2 separate regions of the Homo sapiens genome follow, and region 2 is linked to region 1. Evidence: fine-mapped expression QTL. A gene starts in region 1. The other region holds a variant in brackets. All regions are shown on one strand. Distances are from middle to middle.

Region 1 (2,907 bases):
ATCTTGACACGCACATCGCACACAACACAAACTCTATTTTAGCCCACCTCCCTCTTCACTGACTCTTCATGGTAGGTTTAGTTCCCATAATCCATGAAAATGCCTAGCTCCTTGTCACTAGAGCTTGTTTTGGAAACCTGCCTACAGTGTAACAAGCTGGAATGTGAAGAGGGATGCATCTATTTGTGTTGCTGAGTCATTGAATTGACTGAAGCTTCAAGGACTAGGGGGTGCTGAGCAGAAATGAAAACACACAATCCTTTCTGTTAGAGATTTGCTCTTTTCGTATTGGCATGTAAACAAGTAAGTCACTAAGTGAACTGACGTCACAATTTAGTTTTAGGAAGATGCTTTTCCCAGGCACGATTTGAACTCAGTGGTTTCCTGAATCTAGCAAAGTATGCTGCTTTGTTTTCTCTTAGATTAATTTTGCCTAATTTTAAAGCTTTGATTCTCTTTTTACGAAGACGAAAATAAATCTCTCTAGTCTGGGCCTTTTTCGTTTCCCAGGATTATGATTAAAATTATCACTAACTTTTAGATAGTCCAGCACGCACCGGATGACTCTGAAGCCGGTTGGGCAGTGGAGATCGGGAAGAACATGAAAAAGCTTCAAAGCTTTTGGTTGAGGACATCGGGAGATGTAAACCCCAAACGCGGGTTTTACTTCTCCCCTCCACCCCTCCCCGCAAACCCATGCCTACTCGTTTTGACTGCTCAGCAATTCTGAGGCCAACCATTTGCAACGGCGAGGAGCAGGGGCTGGTGAGTCAAGGACTGGGCATGGAGTCAGGACTCTTAGGTGCCTTGACTCACGGCAGAGCCTTGAGGAAGTCGCTTTGCCTCCCACGTGTCTCCCTTCACCTGCCAGAGGCGGAGGGGAGGCGGGGCTGTGCTGGAAAACGTCCGTTTCGCACCGACTTATGTTACAGATGGGCAGACCTGAATTTTAAAAGACCCTCAGAGTCACACAGCAAATGAGCCCTCAAATGCCCGTGTCCCGCCTGCGCTCCGGAGAACCCCTGCCCTGCCTCGGGGACTCGGGAGGTGGGTGTGGGCTCCGAGACTCGGACGGCACCTTGGCGTGGCGAGAGCAGGTGGAGATGCGCACGGAGGTTGCATGTTCACCTCCGGGTCTCGGGCGCCACGGCTGCCCGTACCTGTTCCAGCAAGCGTCAGCCAGGAACTGCCGCGCTACTGATTTTCCCTTCGCTCTTGGGTCCCAACCCCCGGGCTCTCCGGGCTAGGGAGGCGGTGGGGTGGGGTCGAGGCCGTCCCGAGCCACCCGCGGCGGCTTCACACCTGTATCGGATTTGCTTTCTCGCCTTTAATCCTCTCCAATCCCGAAAGCACCCCAGCAGAGCGCCCCCGCAGCCCGCCTCGAGCCCGGCTCATACGCAGACGCTGACTGGGGAAGCGAGGGGTCGCCGGTGTGTGAGGCAGGGTAAGAGACCAGGGGACCTGCACGGAGGAGCGCTCTAGGGGAGGCTGCTGCCTCGGGAGCTAGGGCGCGCCCGGACCACACCGCACGGCGCAGAAGCCCAGCGCGCACGCGCGCCGCCTGCCGCCCCGCGCGTCCCCCCGCCCCGCGTCGCGTCCCCCCACCTCGGGAGAGGGCGGCCAGGCGCAGGGAGCGTGCGCGCGGCCCGCCCCGGGCGCGGGCGGAGGGAGGAGGAGGCGGCGCGCGCGGCGCCCAGCCCGCAGAAGCCGGTGGCCGCGCAGGAGGACGGAGCCCTAACCGCAACCCGCTCCGCGCCGCGCCGCGCCGGTAGGGGACCCGCAGGCCCGGGGGTGGGGGTTGTGGGGAAGGTGTTGGGGTGGGGCGGGAGGGCGGGACTTCGCGCTTCGGGTCCCTGGGCGCAGGGGGACCCAGAGGCCCGCGCGACCCCGCCTCTGGAAACTTTGTGCCGGCGCCCCCACCTGCTCCCTGGCGGTCCTTGACTCTTCGGGGCGGCCCGCGGAGGAGAGGCCCGAGACCTTCCGCAGCGCACCCTCGCCGGCCCTGAGCGTGCGCCCCCTGCCGCTCCCCCGCCGCGCCGCGCCGCCCCCGCGACCCTGTCCCTGTGCCCCGGGGCTCCAGCAGCCTCGGCCGCGCCTCCTCCGTCGCCTTCCGACCCCGCTGAGGCCGCCTACTCTCGCTGGCATCCACCCGCTCTGGAGCGCGCCGCCGCTTTTTGCATCTCCCCGAGGTTTCTGGTGCATGGATAGAAGCAACTTGACTTTCAGCGATGCCAAGTGTCCAACTTGAGTCTTTCTCTGCGGTGGTAGATGGGTGTGCGCGGTGCTAACATCTGTCTTTTTATTTCTCCTAAGTACCCTTGCTCCGGAGCGAAGTTGAGTTGTTGTTTGTAAAGAGGGGGTGCGTGCTGTGGCCGCCTTAAGTGGATTGTATAACTGTATTTTATTTAGGTGGATGTTGCCAGTGGTACCAGCCAGTGTTATGGTAACTGGGCATCCCAGAGGCTAGGGAAGGAGGAGCGACTTACAAATGCAGTTTTACCATGCAGAGATTTTTTTTTTTTAAAACCACCTTGTACTTTCTATCCAGCAGGACCTCCGGACATTTAGTGTGTGTTAACTCGTTAGCTGTTCATTATCGTTTTATAAGAGAGGGGGGTGGAGAGCGTTACCATCCCGTTTTACAGATGTAAAAACGGAGGCGAAGAGCAAACTCCGGGTATCCTTAGTAACCTTAAAAGAATAGGGACCAAGAGATTTAACCCAGAGTCTCCTGGAATTCCTAGTCCCTAAGGCCACTCAGAAGTATGATGGAATGTTGGACCGTCCTCCCTGACATTCTACAGATCACTTAAGAGTCAGAGAGGCCGAGGCCAGCCGGCAGCTCCATGCCTGAGACTCAGCTCTGCCACAAAGTTAAGTAACACTGGACAAGTCACAGTTTCTCTC
Region 2 (2,907 bases), 24 kb after region 1:
GCTTAAGCAATCCTCCCACCTCAGCCTCCCAAAGTGCTGGGATTACATGTATGAGCCACCATGCCCAGCCACCCCCCCCCCACCCCACTTTTTTTTTTTTTTTTTTGGACAATCACCAGAGAGCTGAATTTTACATTGATTTCACATGTTTGTGTCTTAGGTGACTTTTCCCAACTGTTAATTGATAGAAAATGATTTGTCTGTATCCTTGAAAGATTGTACTGTATTATTTAAAAAAAAACCCTCTAATCTTCCCATTTGACAAATGTGACAGAAGGCTGTGATGAATCAGTAGCATTTAAAGTACTGACACATACCTGTATTTTGCAGGAAGGAGACTCTAATTTTGGATTCCTTGGTGGAGGAAAATAAAACACTCTGGTCTTGCCGCCAACGATGCAAGTGTGACTGCTGGCGTCTTCATGAGCTCCAGAGGTCACAGCACGCTACCAAGGACTCTCATGGCCCCTCGGATGATTTCCGAGGGAGACATAGGAGGCATTGCTCAAATCACCTCCTCTCTATTCCTGGGCAGAGGCAGTGTGGCCTCCAATCGGCACCTCCTCCAGGCTCGTGGCATCACCTGCATTGTTAATGCTACCATTGAGATCCCTAATTTCAACTGGCCCCAATTTGAGTATGTTAAAGTGCCTCTGGCTGACATGCCGCATGCCCCCATTGGACTGTACTTTGACACCGTGGCTGACAAGATCCACAGTGTGAGCAGGAAGCACGGGGCCACCTTGGTGCACTGTGCTGCAGGGGTGAGCCGCTCAGCCACGCTGTGTATCGCGTACCTGATGAAATTCCACAACGTGTGCCTGCTGGAGGCGTACAACTGGGTGAAAGCCCGGCGACCTGTCATCAGGCCCAACGTAGGCTTCTGGAGGCAACTGATAGACTACGAGCGCCAGCTCTTTGGGAAGTCGACAGTTAAAATGGTACAGACACCTTATGGCATAGTTCCCGACGTCTATGAGAAGGAGTCCCGACACCTGATGCCTTACTGGGGGATTTAGTGCCACTGAAGCCTGCGTCAGCAGCCCGAGCGGGGCCGGCATCTGCTCCCCGCCGTCTGCTCCCTCTCCACTCTCTTCTCAAATGGCTGACTTCTGGTTCTCCCTCAAGTGTTTTTTACACTGGGTGTTCAAATTTATTTTAAGAGATAGGGAGGGAGGGGACATAAAGGGAATGCATACATTGCTAGTCACATTTTTAAAATTAACATTTTGGAATAGTGTTTATGGAAATCTTTAGCTTTTAATCATTTTTACCAATTTGAACAGTTTAATAAACTGGTTCTGCTCTCTTCTGAATCTCATGCCTTTGGCACCTTGGTAGGTGCAGGAGGAGCTCAGTGCAAAAATCACT[T/C]TGGGGCCTCATTAACCCTTTAGAGACAAGCTTTGCCCCAGGCTGCGGACCAGACAGATGCTTAGGGAAGGTTGATAACCAGCTTCAGTCTCTACTGGATTAGCCCTACTCTTTCCTTTCCCCTCCATTATTTAGTGACTCTGTAAGTAAGTTAAATACACCCTTATTATTTAGCTGTTAAGTAACTATAATGAAATCTGCTGCAAAATCTCTCTTGGAATCCATGTGCCCAGGATTATATTAGCATTATTTTTAATAAATCTATATGCTTAACATATTAGAATTTTTACTAATAATTTCAAGGTGTGTGTGTGTCGATGATGGGAAAAAGGTGCTCTCCAGTAACTAACTAACTAACTGCTGAAATGTGGCTCCTGTGCCAGTTGGGAACATTACTTAAAATACACATCCCAGCAGAGTCTTGTCGGCGCGTCACATCCTGGTGGACAGGCAGACACACCGTCCCCGGTGCTGGGCCGGTGGGAGATGATTGATAGTGCACGCTCTGATCAGGGGTGCTGGTTTTGGTTTCCTCTTGGTTAGTGGAGCGCCCCGAAGCAGCGTGTCCTCCATCAGAGAAACTGGTTTTCAATAAAAGGTGCCTCTGCTTGACTATTATTACCACATACGAAAATGCCCTAAACCAAACCTCAGTATGAGCGATAAGCAAGTAACAAAAACAAACAATGGCTGCCTTTGTTTAACTTTGGGACTGTCTGTCACCCAGTTCACTGCTCCTGATAAAACGGGCAGCACCGCTCATCATCATCAGATACATGGTAGAAGGTGAATGAGCTCGCCCCTGTCCCACTCCTGGGACACTCCTGGGCACTTTCCACGTGCCCCCAAGTAACCACTGTCCTAGGGCATGCCTTTCTTCTGCATGGAGGGCATCCTGGGCGTCTGCCCGTGCAATGGGAACCCGCTGCGGCACTGCTCTTTGGCTTCATTTATCAGGAAGGTTGTAGCTTGCTCACCAGAGGAATAGTTTTCTAGATTTTTTGGGTCAGTTTTGGCAGGAAGCCATACATAGGCCAGTAGCTACATATTTAGACAAATATACTCCACATTTTACCTGGTTTGTGGCAATGGTTTTTTCCCATCTAAATTCTACCTTTTATTGCTTTATACCCGTGGCTGCCCACTGTTATAAACATGCATCATTATTCTCTAGAAAAACTAAAATGAAAAAAATTATTAATAGTTTCTATGGGAAATCAGAGGAAACAACAAATGCTATAAGATCAAAAAAAAAAAAAAAAAAAAAAAATCCAGGGAGGCTCTGGCTGCTTTAGTAGGAGGCTCAGCTTTGAGTCTGGGAGTTTCTGAATAAGAGCACCCAAATAACCATTGTCCTAGGGCGAGAAGACACCTGGTGACAGATGTTCTTGGTAATTAATGAAAATTACCTGTAGAATTCCTGGCAAGCAGCACTACGGGGCTGTAACTAAGAGTTCCTCGCACGTGGGAAGCTGAACACCTTTGTAATCTTAAGCGCATGGGCCCCTGTTCATCCTAGTGACTTGCATCTATGTG

Evidence for each region. PIP is the estimated chance that this variant, and not a neighbour inherited with it, causes the effect.
Region 2: its variant is the best candidate, but not a certain one, in a credible set for the expression of DUSP14 in tibial nerve (GTEx, PIP 0.58).

The regions. Positions count from the first base shown.
Region 1 is chr17:37,488,191-37,491,097 of GRCh38, forward strand. DUSP14 (dual specificity phosphatase 14) reads left to right here and starts at 1,701. Exons shown (of 3, transcript NM_007026.4): 1 at 1,701-1,768. RefSeq lists an enhancer at 2,801-2,907.
Region 2 is chr17:37,511,851-37,514,757 of GRCh38, forward strand. DUSP14 (dual specificity phosphatase 14) reads left to right here. Exons shown (of 3, transcript NM_007026.4): 3 at 331-1,648. The coding sequence starts at 423. The coding sequence ends at 1,019. Among named protein-coding and RNA genes, the nearest start is that of DUSP14, 23 kb to the left of the region's middle. RefSeq lists a silencer at 658-1,048 and an enhancer at 807-1,320. The variant T/C (reference allele first, on the strand shown) is at 1,372.